Homo sapiens: one gene and its partners. The protein of the gene in region 4 interacts with the protein of the main gene of each other region in a pairwise test. Each region holds a gene or a part of one and is shown on either strand. Other genes may lie near its edges.

Evidence for each region. Proteins that work in one complex are often made in the same cells at the same time.
Region 1: the proteins of PHOSPHO2 (region 4) and JPH3 interact in binary tests that used the Homo sapiens proteins (3 or more experiments, as listed by UniProt).
Region 2: the proteins of PHOSPHO2 (region 4) and C1QTNF2 interact in binary tests that used the Homo sapiens proteins (3 or more experiments, as listed by UniProt).
Region 3: the proteins of PHOSPHO2 (region 4) and GKAP1 interact in binary tests that used the Homo sapiens proteins (3 or more experiments, as listed by UniProt).

The regions. Positions count from the first base shown.
Region 1 is NC_000016.10:87,642,932-87,647,619, forward strand, and holds part of JPH3 (junctophilin-3), read left to right. Parts: intron 1-1,326; coding exon 1,327-2,104; intron 2,105-4,688. UniProt on the Homo sapiens protein: Junctophilins contribute to the formation of junctional membrane complexes (JMCs) which link the plasma membrane with the endoplasmic or sarcoplasmic reticulum in excitable cells.
Region 2 is NC_000005.10:160,367,715-160,373,100, forward strand, and holds the start of C1QTNF2 (complement C1q tumor necrosis factor-related protein 2 isoform 1 precursor), read right to left. Parts: upstream 2,913-5,386; 5' UTR 2,798-2,912; intron 1-2,797. UniProt on the Homo sapiens protein: Involved in the regulation of lipid metabolism in adipose tissue and liver.
Region 3 is NC_000009.12:83,769,158-83,773,845, reverse strand, and holds part of GKAP1 (G kinase-anchoring protein 1), read left to right. Parts: intron 1-4,688. UniProt on the Homo sapiens protein: Regulates insulin-dependent IRS1 tyrosine phosphorylation in adipocytes by modulating the availability of IRS1 to IR tyrosine kinase. Its association with IRS1 is required for insulin-induced translocation of SLC2A4 to the cell membrane.
Region 4 is NC_000002.12:169,696,583-169,700,923, forward strand, and holds part of PHOSPHO2 (pyridoxal phosphate phosphatase PHOSPHO2), read left to right. Parts: intron 1-778; 5' UTR 779-949; intron 950-1,282; exon of another isoform or gene 1,283-1,400; intron 1,401-4,341. UniProt on the Homo sapiens protein: Phosphatase that has high activity toward pyridoxal 5'-phosphate (PLP).

The sequences.
Region 1 (4,688 bases), on a different chromosome or scaffold from region 4:
GTATACAATTCAGTGGTATTAATTACCTTCACGGTGTTAGGTAGCTGTCATCACTGTTTACCTCCAAGGCTTTCCCATCATCCTACTGCAAAACTCTGTCCCTATTCAACACTGACCCCACAACCCTCCCCAGCCCCTGCACCCACCGCGCTTTCTGCATCTCTGAGCGTGACTACTCTAAGGACCCCGTGTACATGGAATCATCCGATATGTGGCCTTTTGTGCCCAGCTCAGTTCACTCTGTGTAATGTCTTCAGCGTTCATCCACATTGCAGCCTGTGTGAGAATGTTCTACCTTTTCAAGGCTGAATGATGTTCCATCGTATGGACGGACCGCATGGCGTCTGTCCATTTACCAGGTGATGGACTTGTGGGTTGCCTTTCCCTTTCCAGCCATGGAAACAGTGCTGCTGAGAACCCAGGTGCACAGGCAGCTGCTGCAGTCCCCACCCTCCCTTCTTCTGGGGATATCAGGTCTGCTGATTTTATGTCTGAAGGTCATGGGCCACTGTCCCTTCCCTATGCCCTTGAATCTCTTCCATGGTGTGTCCACTGTGTGGTCTTCCTGGATACCTCCAGCAATGGGGAGCTCACTGTCTCCCAGAGCAGCCCATTCAGGGCTTAGTGTGTAGCCCACACCTGTGTCCCTGTAGCTGCCACTCATTAGCCTCCTAACCCAGGACGCGTTTCCTTGTGCCCTTGGCAGGGGCTCCGTATTCACTCTGGGTTCTGTGGTCCTCACTCTGCACCACAGACTCTGATGCCTCCCTTCTCCCTCCCCGATTTCCAAGAGAGAACAAGATCTAGCCATGAGAAGCAGGATGGAGGTGTCTTCAAAAACAGCCACTGGTGATAGAAGTTGTAGGAAGGTACCATGGTCTGTCTGCCTCCACGCAAACCTCACCAGGTTTCATCAAGATAGCACACCAGGAGTGGTGTGGCTCATGACTGTAATCACAGCACTTCTGGAGGCTGAGGCAGGATCACTTGAGCCCATGAGTTAGAAACCAGCCTGGCCAACATAATGAGACTGCCATCTCTACAAATAATTTACAAAGTAGTGGAGCATGGTGGTGCACGCCTGTAGTCCCAGCTGCGCAGGAGGCTGAGGCAGGAGGATCGCCTGAGCCCAGGGGTTCCTGGCTGTCGTGAGCTGTGATGGTCTCACTGCACTCCAGCCTGGGCAACACAGCGAGAACCTGTCTCAAAAAACACAAAACAACAGGAAGCTCAGACAGGACTGTGGCTGCTTCAACCCTGTCCGTGGCCAGGCTGTGCCCCCTCCTCTGTCGCTGGGCACTCACCCCTCTCTCATTTTCTCCCCAGGGACCTACCAGGGCCAGTGGGTCGGTGGCATGCGCCAGGGCTACGGCGTCCGGCAGAGCGTCCCGTATGGCATGGCCGCGGTCATCCGCTCACCCCTGAGGACGTCCATCAACTCCCTGCGCAGCGAGCACACCAACGGCACGGCGCTGCATCCCGACGCCTCTCCGGCGGTGGCCGGCAGCCCGGCCGTGTCCCGCGGGGGCTTCGTGCTCGTGGCCCACAGTGACTCCGAGATCCTCAAGAGCAAGAAGAAGGGGCTGTTTCGGCGCTCGCTGCTGAGTGGGCTGAAGCTGCGCAAGTCGGAGTCCAAGAGCAGCCTGGCCAGCCAACGCAGCAAGCAGAGCTCCTTTCGCAGCGAGGCGGGCATGAGCACCGTCAGCTCCACGGCCAGCGACATCCACTCCACCATCAGCCTGGGCGAGGCTGAGGCCGAGCTGGCGGTCATCGAGGACGACATCGACGCCACCACCACCGAGACCTACGTGGGCGAGTGGAAGAACGACAAACGCTCCGGCTTCGGCGTGAGCCAGCGCTCGGACGGGCTCAAGTACGAGGGCGAGTGGGCCAGCAACCGGCGCCATGGCTACGGCTGCATGACCTTCCCGGACGGCACCAAGGAGGAGGGCAAGTACAAGCAGAACATCCTCGTCGGCGGCAAGCGCAAGAACCTCATCCCCCTGCGGGCCAGCAAGATCCGCGAGAAGGTGGACCGCGCCGTTGAGGCCGCTGAGCGGGCCGCCACCATCGCCAAGCAGAAGGCTGAGATCGCGGCTTCCAGGTAGGAGGGCGAGGGGGCGGGGGGCCCTTCTTGGTGCCCAGAAGGTGTTTGTGAGCCCAGTCTGTTCAGTCCTGCTGTCGCTCAAGGCCTTGGGCTAGGCCCAGTTTGAGGCCTACACTGGTGTTTCTCAAACTATGCCCCCATGGAACCCTAGGGTTCCCTGGAGGTTCTCAGAGGTGACTGTGGTCAGGATTGGTGCAGAGGAATGGTTGATTTGTGGGGGTGTAGAGGCCTACAGCCTCCTTAAACTGAGCAGTGTCTCTTTGTTCTATATGCTGATGTTTAGTGTAAAATATTGGTGAATAAAGAAGGTGGTCTGTTCCGTTAGTACAATGCATTGGAGTGCTGCTGTGCTAGCTAGTAGGGGTGACACCACCAGGTGGGGGTGGCAGGTCCAGCACTGCAGGGCTGTGGGAGGTGGCTAGGAGCTGCCTCAGCTACCCAGACCTGCGATCTAGATTCTTCCGGGACCCTGGGAGATGGCAGCAGTTGGGAGGCCAATTCCGAGTGCCTGGCAAGGGGCTCATGCAGGCCTGGTGCTTTGGGGGCAGCCGCTGTTCTGAATCGGCTGCATGACTTACGGAATTTGGGGTCCAGTGGGGCCTCTAGGCCCTAAGGAATGGGTCCAGAGGTGACTGTGGGTGGGATCGACGTGGCTTTTGGGTACCTTTAGGGGTGGGTGCAGGATGGGGCCTTTAGGGCTGGAGGAAGGTGCCCAGGGTCTGGCTCCTGTGGAGGTGAGTGTGTGAGCCAGGGGCTGGTCCCCGCCAAGCTGTGGCTGGCAGGAGCCACCTGCTGCAGGTTGGAGGAAGTTCCCCTGTGGAAAGCCACGGGCCCCACAGGTAGGCATTTGGGTTCTAAAGTAACTGAGGTTACTAAAGGGCTTTGTCAAGACTTGGGAAGGCATTTCAGAAAACCCAGAGCCTTTGCTTTCCACCGGCATTTGCTTTCCTGGGCCAGACGAGGGCCCTTGGGGTAGCCCGGAGAGTCTTGGGGCAGGGATCTGGGAGCTGCGGGGGAGTCCATGGGCTGCCCAGGCAGGAGGCTTCCCAGGGCACGTTCCCCTGCGTCTTTCTGGATGGCTTTGTGTTCTCAGCCAGGGGCAGACCTGGAGTTCCTCCAGGAAAGCTCCCAGCCTGGGTGCGGCTCAGCCCTTCCCGACCTGTCGCTAATTAAAGTTCAGCCCATTTGGTTCTGATTTTCAGTGACCTTTGATCTATAGTGAAAAACAAAAATGGTGGCTGCGGTTTGTTGGCAGAATATGTTGCTCGCGACTTCTATTGTTTTAGAGGGAATCAAGATCGATTCCAAGAAGCTGAAAGAAACATGGAATTACTACCTGACACCGAGGTCCAAACTCGCTGTTTGCCCCTCCCTGCTCCCTCAGAAATGTTCAGGCAGGGAAATAAACAGCAGCCCACGTGTGACTACTCATCTGGGGTTTTAAGAACAAATTAGAATCAGTAGTTATTTTTTCCATCATAAATGTAATACTTGTTCCACAGGAAAATAAATAACACTGAGAAGGGAGAAAGCAGCATTAGCTCTGGTCTGATGGATCGGCCGAGCGCTCTCCTTGGCATTTTGGTGAATTTCTTTCCTCTGTGTTTTGTTTTTCGACCCTTTCTATTTTGTATAGTTGCTTTTTTGACCCTAGTGGACAAGAAGCAGTTTTGGGGGCTGGGGGACAGCGGCGTCACGGAATTGAGGAAGCTCGTGGCAGCTTCCGTGTGACCTGCAGATTGGTTCATGAGTTCATTGGTTCATGAGTTCTCAGCAGCTCGAGGACTTAGTGGACAGTGCCCTGCAGGACTGAGCTTATTTCACAGCCTTGGCACTGGGTGGATGTCTGTAGGACTGGGGGGACCTGCGACCTGAGATAGTTTTCAGACGAATTCCCCTAGACATTAAGAGAAGCGGGTTCCCATTAAGGAGCCCAGGTGGCATGGACAGGGCTGGGGGCAGCACAGGTGAGGAGCTGCTCCAAGGCAGGTTGTCAGCCTCTCTGGACCTCAACTTCTAATCTCTGAAGGCCTGTGAAGCTTAGGTGGTAACAGCTCCCTTCCTGGGGCATCCAACCTCTTCCTGGGGTTTTGGGGGGCCCAGGGGCTCTGTGGAGCATTGCTGGGGGAGATGCCTACGTATAAGTGGGCATCATGCTGGGGTGAAAGCCCAGGGGCTGGGCCGGGAGGGCGAGACCTGAGACCCATGCAAAGGAGCCGGGGCCAGGGTGGGGTGGGCACGGCTCCTACTGAGTCCCCAGCCCTTGGGACGCTGGCCAGCCAGCCTTGGCATGGCCAGCATCCCTGTGTCTCCTGGGGAGGCATTTTACTTAATGGACAGAAGGACAGACAGACGGGTGGAGGGAGTGAGAGGGAAAGGATGGGTTTGCAGGCTGGTGCAGCTGTGAAACTGACGGAGCCCACCCCCTGCCAACCCCCCGACAGCCTTTGAGGCCCAGCAGCCCATGCTCCCTGGCAGGTTGCGGCTTGCCTTCTGCACTGGCGGAGTCCGAGCTGACTCCGTCCCTTCGCCCGAGCGGGCGTCGCGGGGAGGGAGGTGGTTCCTGCTTCCGCATGCGCAC
Region 2 (5,386 bases), on a different chromosome or scaffold from region 4:
TGCCCCACGCTGACTAGGACAGAGAGCCTGTGTTCTACAGTGTCCACAGTCCTCACCACTCCCAAATGTCATGCATCCCATTCCTATATACATTGTGCACAGTCTCTGTCAGTATCTGGGTTTGCAACCCCTAATCTAGAGGAAAAGAGTAATGATTCTCCATGTATGTTGTGTGTTCTTATTTCAAAGTTTTGATGTTCATATCTCCTTTAAATCTCCCCACACTTCTAAGAGGCTGATACTGTCATCTCCACTTGGCAGAAGAGAAAACAGAGCTCAGAAAAGGGAAAAATTACTTTTCCTAGGTCAATGTTTGGGTGGAACTCAGGCCTGCTGGCTCAGGGCCCAGAGCTCATGTTCCTCCACCATGGCCCCTCAGCTAACAGGGGAGTTACTAACAGGGCAGTGATGTGTATGCGCATGTGTATGTGTGTTATAGGAGTAAGCCACTTAACAGAAGTGAACAAATCCAGGGGAAGGTTATTTGCTTGAAAAAATATTTGGCACATAATTCCTTTCAAAAGAAAAGCTAGAATGGGCTGGGCGCGGTGGCTCATGCCTGTAATCCCAGCGCTTTGGGAGGCCGAGGCGGGCGGATCACAAGATCAGGAGTTTGAGACCAGCCCGGCCAATATGGTGAAACCCCGTCTCTACTAAAAATACAAAAATTAGCTGGGTGAGGTGGTGTGCGCCTGTAGTCCCAGCTACTGGGGAGGCTGAGGCAGAAGAATTGCTTGAACCCAGGAGGCGGAGATTGCAGTGAGCCGAGATTGTGCCACTGTACTCCAGCCTGGGCAACAGAGCGAGACTCCTTCTCAAAAAAAAAGAAAAAAGAAAAAAAAGAGAAGCTAAAATGGAATATAACTAACAGAAGTTTGATTTATGCAAGAGTTCATCTCACAGAGGTAAATTAAGGTTGGCAGGCCTTTGACCAGGAAGAAGGAGTGGGTGAAGCTGTGGGTGTGGAGAGAGACTCTGTTACCCCACAGTGAACATTTAGGAGTAGGAAGCATCAGTGATTGAGACAGCAGGAGAGACTGTCTGATCAGCAGGGTCAGCATAAGAGAAGGAATAGCGAGACAGGGGGGAGGAATAGGGAGATTTGCAGAGGAAAAAAGTGACACCTTGGAGAACTTGCTGAACATTCAATGGAGACAGAGTGGCTTCAAACGTGACTCCAGCCTTGTGAAAAATAATCTCAGTTCATCCATACAATGACACACTATGCCCATTAGAAGAACAAAGTAAGCCTGTATATGCAGATATGAAAACATGGCGAAGACACACTGTTAAGTGAAAAAAGCAAGTTGTACCATGGAATGTAAAGTATGCTTCTCTTTGAGTTTAAAAAAAAAAAAAACAGCACAAATACAGAGTATATATATGTACAGAAGGGTTGGGGAAATACTTTCCGAAAAGACACAATCTTGTTAAGGGGTTACCTTTCAGAATTGGGAGGGGGTGTGTGGGCTTTTACTTTTCTCTTTCTACCTTTTTGAACTGTTCGAATTTCTTGTGATGAGCGTCGTTACTTTTATAACATTTAAAACAAAAGGTAAACCTAAGGTTTAAGGATTGGAAGACTGGTAAGTGTGGTATCCCTGCTAGGAGATGGGGAGAAGTCAGACATTTGGGAGGAAACAAATTCTGCAGTGAATCTGATGTGTTACAATGAAGGGCTGTAGTGATGCTTGGAAATGTGTGGAGAGTTTGAGGATCGGGCAGTTGAAAGCAGGAGTAATTGATATAATTACTCCAGATGACAGAATAAATTAGAGAATGGTGCAGAGGGAGGGCAAAAATAAGGATGTGAGAGGACAGATTTTTAACAGTGCTAACTGAGCACCAGCCTTGGATTGACCTATGTAAGACATTGTCTTTCTATTACTGCTACTTCAGCATGGTGGAAACACAGGGTCTCTGAGAGATGGCCAGTCTAAGGAAGGGACCTCTGCAGGCTTCCAAGCAGGGCAATTTTGTGGTCAAGGAGCAGAGGAGGATCACAATGAGGTAATGCAAGGGACTCATGGTGTCAGAGGAGAGACCTGGGCTGGGAGACTATTAGGGCCCACTGCAATTATTTAGCTGAAAAGCGAGGTCCTAGAATGGGGCAGCAGCAGTGGGGATGGAGAAATAAGGACAAAGCATATTAAGACAAGTAGTTTAGGTGGGGAAGGAGAGTGAAGAGAGTCATGAGGCATTGAGTACAAATCTCTGCCTGCCGTTCAATACCTTTTGAGCTCAGTTTGCCAGTCTGTATCATATATTTAAATAAATGTGAAGGTTAAGTGAAATAATGCATTCAGTAAATGTTAACTGTGATTGTTAGCTCGGGTATTGGACTCAGATTTACCAGACTTCAAGTCCCTTTTTTATCAATTACTAGCTGTGCAACCCTGTCCAAGTCATTAATGTCTCTGAGCCCAGTTCCTCTTTTGTAGACGGGGATAATCTGTTGTCATGAAAATGAAAGAGCACAAGTAAAGTGCTAGCAGGACTTGGCACAAAGTAGGCGCTCAATAAATGGCAGAGCTACGGGTGTTACTATTGTAACGGGTAAACCACTGGGCACAGAGCCTGGCACACAGTAAGGACTCAAAACATGTTAATTTGTATTATAATACGAAGGTAGAAGTCGAGAGGCAGGAATGCAGGAGCTGCCCAGCCCGCAATAAAGGCGCGCTGGCAGCTCTCCCACCTTCCGCATCCCGCCCCGCCCGCAGCAGTGCGAGTCCTCCTCCTCCTCCTCCCCGCGCGCACTTGCCGCCCCCGCCCGACCGCGGTGCGGGACACTCACCCTCGCGGCTGCCCGCCACGTCCAGGGGCGTCCGGAGCAAAGAAGCTCTCGGCGGGGCTCCGCGTCCCGGCTTTCCTCAGCGGCAGCAGCCGGGCAGAGCGTCGGCCCCAGGCATAGTTTTCCCATCCCGTCATGGGCGGGAGAGCCTTCCTCCCGGTCACGTGGGCTGGCCCGCAGCGCAGCATTCTCTTTTTAGCAGCTGTTTGGAAAAAACTTGCAGTGCTGATGACAACTCGGGTGTGTCGATGCATCTCTGCGTTTGTAGAGCTTGTTAGCGTATTTGGAGGTTTTGTGCGCCAGAGTGATCAGAGTGATTGTTTCCCACGCGTTTGCAAAGGTGTGCATGTACTTGAGTGTGATGATAAATCATAGGGATGTGTTTAGTTGTGTGTGTGCGTACGTGCGTTTATCCAAATTTTCATCAGGGCTGTTCGGTGTATGTACACATGCATGCACATGTCCAAGATGGCAGCTTGGTGTAAAACTGGAGGGCACATCAGTGGTTGGATGTACACGATAGTGGCTAGACATCTGTATGTGGGGTGCATGTTTAAATGTGTGTGTGACTGTGCAGGGGCTCATTCTGTGTGTTGGTTTGACATCTGTATGTGGGGTGTATGTTTAAATGTGTGTATGACTGTGCAGTGGCTCATTCTATGTGTTGATTTCTATGCATGCCTTGGTGTGGATTTTGTCCGGATGTGAGTGTGCACATACACACTAGTGTGGGTGAGTTCCCCTGTGTACCAGCTCTCATTTCTCTTCTCCCCAGAAGGTGAGGATTCACTGGTCTCACTCACTCTGGCCCAGCCTCAAGTCATTGAGAGACTTATGGAGGGTCTCAGCTCCCAGGATAGGCAAAGCAATCCTATTTGGGAATCAAGCAGGCACTGGAGGAAAGGAAATCCTCCAAGGCCTGGCTTTTGCTTCTCCCTGTTCCTTCCACTGCTCTCTTCCACTAGCTACCCATATTTCACTCTGCACAGCCAGAGCATCTGGTTAACAGCTGGTAAGTGACACAAAATTTACAGTCAGAATTTTAATACAGATATGCATTTGAATTCTAATGTTGTATCCACCACCTTAATCAAGTCAGATAATCTCACAGATGGTGTTTTATTTTCTAAAAAAAATGGGAGAATAATATTACCTGCACTGCCTTTACCCCAAAGTTGGGACACTAACTCATAAAGATGTTTGGTAAGCCATTGAACTATGTAGGGAATTATTACTAATATCACATAAATACTATTTGAGAAAGAAAGTTTGTAGGCTTAACAAACATTCATTCAACAAATATTTAATAAGCATCCATTGTGTGTCAGTCCCCAAGCAAGGTGCTGGGGACATAGAGGGAAACAAATAGGCTTGATGCCTACCCTCATGAAACTTAGAGTCCTCCAGCTGGGGATGACACAAGTGGTTACAAGTGAAATGAGTGTTATAGAAAAGAAAAGCTTAAAGTATAAACTGGGCAGTCAGGGGAAGGCCTGGGAAACTGATGTTTCAGGTGAACCCTGAGAGATGACTGAGACTTGTCTGAATGTAGGGGAAGTGTGAGCTCAAAAAATGAAGGAATGATAACATGTGGAGTGGAGTTTAGGGTGTTGATACACAGATGGCTGGAAAGGAAACTTCCATCCACCGCCTCTTGGGTCAGATGTGTCAGCAATTGGAAAGGTGAGGAAACTGCTTAGAATGCCTGGAGGCCATTCAGAATCTAAAGGGCTCAGGAAAGCCCCTCTCCTAGAGTAGAGTGGTAATATCTGTGTGTTATCCATGTGGCTCCATCATGACAGAGGTTGAAATCACTGGCATGCTCTCATTGGTTAAAAAAAAAAGGTTAATGAAAAGTTAAGAAAGGCAGTGCTGCTATACCTGGTAGTGTGAAACATTTAATAAACACTACTGATTGAATGAATGGGGGCACATGTTTTTCCAACTTTTGAAGGATACCTGGAACCTAGGTTTCCTGAAGCCTAGCAGAGTTCCTGGGTCCCTGTCCTATGGTTCCTTGCAGTGGTGATGGCTTCATGTAGCATGCAATCCAAAATACTTGTCCGGTGGCAGTTCCACGAGCTGCAGGAACTGTGTCAAGCTAGAATGGGGCTTAGAACTTCCTCTCCCTAGCCTCTCTCTGTCTTTACTCTCTGCTTGAATTCAGTCTACGAACATTTGTTTGTTTGTTTGTTTAAGATGGAGTCTTGCTCTGTTGCCTAGGCTGGAGTGCAGTGGCACAATCTCAGCTCACTGCAATCTCCACCTCCCGGGTTCAAACGATTCTCCCGTCTCAGCCTGCCAAGTAGCTGGGACCACAGGCGCGCAACACCACACTAGGCTAATTTTTGTACTTTTAGTAGAGATGGGGCTTCACTATTTTGCTCAGGCTGGTTTTGAAATCCTGGCCTCATGTCATCCAACTGCCTCGGCCTCCCAAAGTGCTGGGATTACAGGCGTGAGCCATTGCACCCGGCCACAGTCTATAAACATTTATTACCTATTATGAGTATGGGGACAAAGAGATGAACTTCTGAATGAGAACACAAATTACACCAGGAGGCAAAATACAATTAAGTGCCATAGGAAAGG
Region 3 (4,688 bases), on a different chromosome or scaffold from region 4:
CATTTTATTATAAAATACCTAGGCCCAAAAAGGAGGGCTAAATGTAGAAAATCCTTAAATCTAAATGTAGAGTATATGGATGAAAATTTTCATAATAAAAAGTTAAGAAACCAAACAAAATGAAATTATATTATTTAGTGATGCATCTGTAAAACAACAAAAACATGGAAATGATCAACACTAAGTTGAGGTAATGGTTACCTTGTCGAGGCACGAAGATGAGACTAAGGGAAGAGTATATAGATGGGCCATAAGGTCTGTAGGTAATATTCTAGTTTTTAAGTAGAATGGTGTGGGATCAAGTGTGTTTTTTTTTTAAACAGCTGTATTGAGTTATAATTTAAATACTATAAAATTCACCCATTGCAAGTATATAATTCACTCATGGTTGTGCAGCCATAAACACAGTCTAGTTTTGGAACATTTCCATAATCTCAGAAAATTCCCTCATAGCCATTTGTAGTCAATCCCTACTCCCACCTTCAGCCCCTGGCAACCACTGATCTACTTTCTGTCTCTAGAGATTTGCAGTTTCTTGTAACCTATAATGGACTCATAGAATGTATAGTCTTTGTGTTTGGCTTCTTTCACTTAGCATAATGTTTTTGAGGTATATCCGTGTTGTAGCATGTGGCAGTAGTTAATTCAGCCGTATCACTGAATAGTATTTCATTGTATAAATGTTGTTTATTCACCAGGTTATAGGCTTGCTATGCACATTTGACGTATGTCTTTGTGTGGATATGTTTTAATTTCTCGTAGGTGGTTACTTAGGAGTGAAATTGCTGGGTTGTGTGGTGAATTTATGTCTAACTTTTAAAGAGTCTGTCAAATTGTTTTTCAAAATGACTACCATTTTTCACTCCCACCAGCAATATATGAGAGTTCTAGCTCCTACGCATCCTTGCCAACGCTTGATATTATCTCTTGTTTTGATTATAGCCATTCTAGTGGGTATGTAATGTATTTGATTGTAGTTTTAATTTGCATGTTCCTAATAACTGGTGATTTCAGACATCTTTTCATATGCTTATCAGCCATTCTTATATCTTCTGGAAATATCTATTCAAATTTTTTGCTCATTTTTGTGTATTTTCTTATTGATTTGTATGATTTCTTTATATGTCTGAAAACAAGTCCTCTATCAGATACATGATTTGCAAATACTTTCTTCCAGGCTATGCCTTGCCTTTTCTTTTTAATTTTTTATTGATACAAAATAGATGTACATATTTTGGGGATGTCTTTTTGGTTTTTTAATTGTGTCTTTTGAAGCACAAAAGTTTTAAATTGTTATCAAGTCTAGTTTGTGACTTTATGGATTGTACTTTTGGTGTTCATTAAATAAATCTTTGCCTAACACAAGTCATGATGATTTATTCTAGAGGCTTTATAGTTTTAGTTCTTCCTTTAAGAGTCTGTGATCCATATTTTGAGTTAATTTTTGTGAATTGTGGCATATGCATAGACACTTCTCCCAGCACAACACTCTTATATCCTTAATAAAATACCTTGACACCTTTTTAAAAAGTAAATTTGATCATAAATATGAAGGCTCATATCTAGATTCTCAATTCTGTTCCATTGATCTGTATGTCTATACTTACATAAGCACCATACTGTCTTATTCATTGTGTGCTTGGTACCAAATAGGTGTGCAGAATTTGAATTAAACTGAAATTGAATTGGCTAGACTTATTATGTTAAATATTTTATGTTCTTACATTTGCCATATTTTAATCTTTTTTTCTGGTGTGTGTGGGATGTAGTAGTTGATTTATTTTTGCTTTTCTCCCCCCTATAGTTTGTTATCAGTATCTTTTGAAAAAAATCCCATCTCTAGATCAAAAAGAAACTTTGTGGCCTCACTCAAAAGTACTTAAGGGACAGAATGCCCTTTGTGATAGGCATGATGTGATGGTAATGGGAGCAACTATCAACAAGCAGGGACATTGGCTAGAATTATAATTATAATTATAATCTCTAGTGATATGAAATCCAGAGGCTGATTAGTTGCTAGCAGTATGTTATTCTTTCCACAGAAGCTCAGCAGTGGTTTTTAGCATTTCTGTATTTATTGCTGTAAAATAAAATCTTACAAGAATATACTGGAACTATTTTATGAAGCAGTAATTTTAGAGTTATGCCTGTATCCCTTAGCAATCGCACATGCATTCTTAAGGCCATAATTACTTGGGGGGGAAATAATACTTGCTCATCAACTTCTCATGATGTTTATGAAATTCAAATAAGGTAATGTTTGTTTAAGTGCTTTGCAAGATATAAAGTGTTGCACAACCATTTTTAATGTCATTCATATAGTAAGCACTGGTATACAAATAAATTTTTTTCAAACACTTTACTTTCTAAGATAATGTGAAGTGAAAAGTATGAATAATTATTGAACCTTGGGGTCGTTTGCCCACAGATACAATTGTGAATAGCTGTAGTTCAAGAATGTGGGGACAGGCATGGTGGCTCACACCTATAATCCTAGCACTTTGGGAGGCTGAGGCGGGTGGATCACCTGAGGTCAGGAGTTTGAGACCCACTGGCCAACATGGTGAAACCCCATCTCTGCTAAACAAACAAACAAACAAACAAACAACAAAAAAATTAGCCAGGAGTGGTGGCATGTGCCTGTAATCCCAGCTATTTGGGAGGCTGAGGCACAAGAATCGCTTGAACCTAAAGGGGTGAGGGTTGTAGTGAGCCGAGATTGGGCCACTGCACTCCAGCCTGGGTGAGAGTGAGACTGTCTCAAAAAAAAGAGAATGTGGGACATAGGTGAAACCAATGAGTGAGAGGAATGTTTTCTTCAGTCTCTGTCTTCATAACAGGATGTTGAAGAGGAAATGCTCCTTTTCTTGGAGAATGTAAAATTTCTAATATATAATTGGATAGACAGTGATAAAAATCTTATCTTTTAAAAATCTTCTATTGGCATGTGGAATTTATATAAAAATTATTTTAAAACGTAATGTAACGCCGGACGCAGTGTCTCATACCTGTAATCCCAGCACTTTGGGAGGCTGAGGCGGACAGATCACCTGAGGTCAGGAGTTCGAGACGAGCCTGGCCAACATGGTGAAACCCTGTCTCTACTAAAATACTAAATTACCTGGGCGTGGTGGCACATGCCTTTAATCCCAGCTACTCAGGAGGCTGAGGTGGGAGAATTGCTTGAACCTGGCCTGGGAGGAAGAGGTTGCAGTGAGCCGAGATCTTGCCATTGCACTCCGCCTGGGCAACAAGAGTGAAACTCCGTCTCAAAAAAAAAAAAGCAGTGTAAACGATTGAGCAACATAAAACTATAATAATCAAGACAATCTGGTACTGGCATAAGAATAGACATTTACAGATTGATAGAATAGGATTAAGAGTTCAGAAACAAACTATTGATTTTGGACAAGAGTCCCAACGCAGTTAAAAGGGCAAAAGAATAATCTTCTCAACACATGATGCTGGATATTGTCATGCAGAAGAGTGAATTTCGACCCTTTCTTCACACCGTGTACAAAAATTAACTCAAAATGGATCACAGAACTAAACACATGAGCTAAATCTGTAAAACTTTTAGAAGAAAATATAGGAGTAAATTTTTGAGTTAAGCAATGGTTTCTTGGATAAAATTGGACTTCATCAAATTTAAAAACTTCTGTGATACAAAGAATACCATCAAGAATATGCCAAGACAAGCCATGAAATGGTAGTAAATGTTTGTAAATCATATTCAATAAGATATAGACATTTAGAATATATAAAGAACTGTTACAACTCAAAAAAACAAGTAACCCAGTTAAAAAATGGGCAAAGGATCTGAGAAGACATTTCTCCAAAAAGATATACAAATCTTCAATAAGCACACAAAAGGGATGTTCAGCACCATTCGCTGTCAGGGAAATGCGACTGAAAACCGCAATGAGATAGCACTTCACACCCGGTGGCTATCATGAAAAAGGCAGATAACAACAAGTGTTGATGAGAATGTGGAGAAATTGCAACCCACTTGACTGCTGATGGGATTGTAAAATGATGGGCTGCTTTGGAAAATTATCTAGCGATACCTCAAAAGGTTAAACATAGAGTCACCAGCAGTTCTACTCTTAGGTATATACCCAAGAGAATTGAAAATACGTCCACACAAAATCTTGTGCATGAATATTATAGCAGCACAATTCGTAATAGCCAAAAAGTAGCAACAACCCAAATGTCTATCAACCAACAAATGGAGAAATAAAATGTAGAATGGGATATTTGGCAATAAAAAGGAATGAAGTGCTGATACAAGCCATATATGGATGAATCTTGAAAATATTTTGCTAAGTCAGAGAAGCCAGTCAAAAGTTCACATATTGGATTATTCTGTATATACAAAATGTCCATAATAGGCAAATCTATAGAGACAGTAAATAGATTAGTGTTGCCTGGGGCGGGTGGCAGGTATTAGGAGGAAATGGGGAGTGACGGCTAATGGGTACAGTTTCTTTTTGGGGTGATGGAATTGTTATATAGTTGATTGGGGTGATGGTTGTACAACTCTGTGAATATATTAAAAAACCAGTGTCTTGTACACATTAAATTGGAGAGTTGTTCAGTATATAAATAACAGAAATTTAAAAAGCAATATCTAAGTCCAAAAAATATGAAGTATGAAAGGAAATTTCCAAATGTGTCTCTACTGTTTT
Region 4 (4,341 bases):
CAGGATATTGTTACACTATGGAAACATTGCAGACATACCAAATAGACATAGATTGTGCTTTTGAAGAGAACAGTTAACTTTTTGGAATTTTAACAAATTGGTTTCAAAACAGATTCACATTCTTAAAACTAAATCTTTGTTCATATTCTTAATTTTTGGAGACATTTTAATTTCTAGTACAGCACTAAATGTCTATTGACAACAGAATGTGGAACTCCTCTATTATTAAACAAGTACAAAGAAAAAATGGACTCTGAAAATCTCAATCAGCTTAACACTGATTTTATCCACTGGACAAAAACTTATTTTCACATAACATTTCTTATTTTCGACACCAAGTCGATACCAAGTGGAAAGCAAAACTTTGTTCTCCTATTGCCAAAAGATGCTTTTCTGACATTAGAAAAACAACATAATTAGAAAATACAAAAAAAAAAATTTTTTTTTTTTTGACACGGAGTCTCGCTCTGTTGCCCAGGCTAGAGTGCAGTGGCGCGATCTCGGCTCACTGCAAGCTCCGCCTCCCAGGTTCATACCATTCTCCTGCCTCAGTCTCCCAAGTAGCTAGGACTACAGGTGCCCGCCACCACGCCCAGCTAATTTTTTGTATTTTTAGTAGAGATGGGGTTTCACTGTGTTAGCCAGGATGGTCTCCATTTCCTGACCTCGTGATCCCCCGCCTCGGCCTTCCAAAGTGCTGGGATTACAGGCGTGAGCCACTGCGCCCGGCCTGAAAATACAAATGTTAAAGCTTTTAAAATACTTTTATTAATTTTAGGAGTTAAGAAGTTTCCATTATTTTGCTCCAAACCAGAAGACTCTGTTCCCTGTATATAGAATAGGAGTAATATTTGAAAACAACTGGCTGATGTTTAAAACTGAAGATTGTCATGATTGTTTATCCTAATCCCAATGCTGAAGTAAGATTGTCTTGGAAATACTAAGTTGGGTAAGTATTTTTTAAAGGTTTATGTTGAGTGGTGAGAAAATACTAACAGAAAAAGATGGGAAAATTTTAAAAGTGCACTTTCAGATCAGCAGGGGAACTATGTTACCTCAGTCTCATGCTATTTTGAGGCTAATAATTCAGGAATTTCAGTAATTTGTGGCTAATTAAGTTTAGGTTTGAGGCAGTTTTCAAACAACAGTGAGTTACATTTGAAATTTGTTTTAATTATAAATTCAGAATTCTCAAAAAGCATATTTAATTTAAAATGTGCCTAGTTACAGTACTACTGTGATTGTCAATTATGCCTTATTATTTATTACATTGTTTCTGTAGGAAAGTGAATTCTGCATTTAAATTTCAGGGAACCAGTCAGAAGCATCTGGATTAGGCATTTAGTGATACAAGGATCCAGAATAACAAAAACTATGTACCAGCCACATTCACACAACAGGTGATACCCCTATAGGTTAATTATTCTCTAGATATTCTAAATTAAGAGACACAGAATACTTAGTCTTATGTGAGTCAAGAGCTCTATTCTGTCTTCACTACTGGGTGTCTACTGTTATAAACTGGAGAATATGTGTGGTTAAATGCCATGTTTTTCATTTTTAATTGATCTTTTTCTTATTGCTGTGGTTCTTTGCCTTTTTAGGATTTCTTGTAAAAACCTCAAAATGGTTATAAAGAGTATCACAGATGTGGTGTTATGGTTAGTGTGTACTTTGAAAGTAATGAATGTTTTTATGTAATTAAATATCTTTCTGCCAAAATTACCTACTTAGTGTTATATTTTTAAACTAATGAGTAGTCATTAAATATTCTATTTTTTAACACTAGAATTTGGTACTTAAAAGCATGAAGTCTGGAATCAAATCAACCTAAGATTCCAGCTCTGGCACTTTACTAACACCTAACCACTTCAAGATCCAGCTTATATATCTTTAAGATGAGGATAATAATGATTCCTACTTAATAGGGTTGTGACAATTAAATGGTATGATATTGCAAAGTTTTTAGGTCAGTGCCTGACATATAATGACTCTCAAAATTATTATTATTATCTGTTTACACACATTAATTATATCCTTTTCTGGATATTCTATATAGTTATTTTTTATAAATAATGTTTATTCTTACCATCAGTTGACCAGCTTATTCTTTCCTTTTCTCTTGAGATTTATAATTAATCACCTTCATTATATTCTAATGAAAACAGAGACATAAGTAATTGTCACACCACAAACAGTATGATTACTCAGGTGTATTCAAATTATTTGGCACCCCAGAGCTAAACTATCTAGAGCAGCTATAAATAAACATGTGAAAACTCTTAACCAAGTTACTTCTAGTTTGGAAGAATTAAATTGGCCTCCAGTTCTCAGGTAATTTGTTTAGAATATCATATAGAGTGTCAGCAATCATTTACTTATAATATTGATATTTAGAAATTGATTTTAAGCTAAATACTTTTTTAATTTTTTTGATTTCCACCTTTTAAGTTCAGGGGTACATGTGCAGGATGTGTAGATTTGTTACATAGGTAAGTGTGTGCCCTGATGGTTTGCTGCACAGATCATCACATCACCTAGGTATTGAGCCCAGCATCCACTAGCTGTTTTCCTGATGCTCTGCCTCCTCCCACCCCCACCCTCTGACAGGTCCCAGGGTATGTTATTCCCTTCCACGTGTTCTCATGATTCAGCTCCCACTTATAAGTGAGAACACATGGTGTTTGGTTTTTCTTGTTGTTGTTCCTGTGTTAGTTTGCTGAGGATAATGGCTTCCAGATCCATCCATGTCCCTGTAAAGGACATCATCTCATTCCTTTTTATAGCTGCATAATATTCCATGGTGTATAAGTACCTCATTTTCTTTATCCAGTCTGTCATTGATGGGCATTTAGGTTGATCCCATGTCTTTGCTATTGTGAACAGTGCTGCAGTGAACATACGCTTGCATGTATCTTTATAATAGAATGATTTACATTCCTTTGGGTATATACCCAGTAATGGGATTACTGGGTCAAGTGGTATTTCTGCCTCTACGTCTTTGAGGAATCACCACACTGTCTTCCACGATGGTTGAACTAATTTAATTTACACTCCTACCAACAGTGTAAAAGTGTTCCTTTTTCTCCACAACCTTGCCAGCATCTGTTATTTTTTGGCTTTTTAATAATAGCCATTCTGACTAGTATAAGATGGTATCTCGTTGTGGCTTTAGTTTGCATTTCTCTAATGATCAGTGATGTTGAGCTTTTTTTTCATATATTTCTTGGGCACATGTATTGTCTTCTTTCCAGAATTGTCTGTTTGTGTCTTTGCCCACTTCTTAATGGGGCTGTTTGTTTTTTCTTGTAAATTTGTTTAAGTTCCTTATCAAGGAACTACATGATTCTTATCAAAAAGGATTTTGGACAGATTTTATGGGCAGAGTCTTTAACTATTTGGGAGCTAAAGGTGTAAGAGAAGATAAAATGAAAAGAGCAGTGACATCGATGCCTTTCACTTCAGGGATGGTGGAACTTTTCAACTTTATAATAGTTGCTGGATATTAGACCTTTGTCAGATGGATAAATTGCAAAAATTTTCTCCCATTCTCTAAGTTGTCTGTTTACTCTGTTGATAGTTTCTTTTGCTGTGCAGAAGCTCTTTAGTTTAATTAGATACCATTTGTCAATTTTTGCTGTTGTTGCATTTGCTTTTGGCATCTTTGTCATGAAACCTTTGCCTTTGCTGTGTCCTGAATTGTATTGCCTAGATTTTCTTCTAGGTTTTTTATAGTGTTGGGTTTTACACTTAAGTCTTTAATCCACCTTGAGTTGATTTTTGTATATGGTGTTAAGGAAGGGGTCCAGTTTGTTTTCTGCATATGGCTAGCCAGTTATCCCAGCACCATTTATTAAATAGGGAATCCTTTCCCCATTGCTTGTTTTTGTTACTAAATACCTTTTCTTAAAAAGTTATTTTACATCTTCCAAGATTTCATGTTATGTTAAATTTGTTCAGAATTTTGGTTAGTACACAGAGAGTCCTTTATACATGATCTGTTATTTAATATGAGGATTGTAAATATTTTAATCTAATAAAATAAGTGTGGTTTGATTGATAATTTAATGATAGTAAGAAATGCTTTTTTTTCTTTCTTATAAATTCTATAAGAAACACACCTCCAGGAACACAATAATACTATGAATGTCCTTTTTATATATTTTGTTTTCCACTTAAAATACTCAAATACGAACTTTGCTTCTTAGAGAAAAGTGGTTAGGTAGTGGTCTTGAAGTGCTTAATTACTTTGTTTATATTCCTCCCTTTAGCAGATTAACATTTAGTTATGTTTATTAAATAAGTATTTTAGCTAGATATGTAAACAGAGTTTGTTTAGGG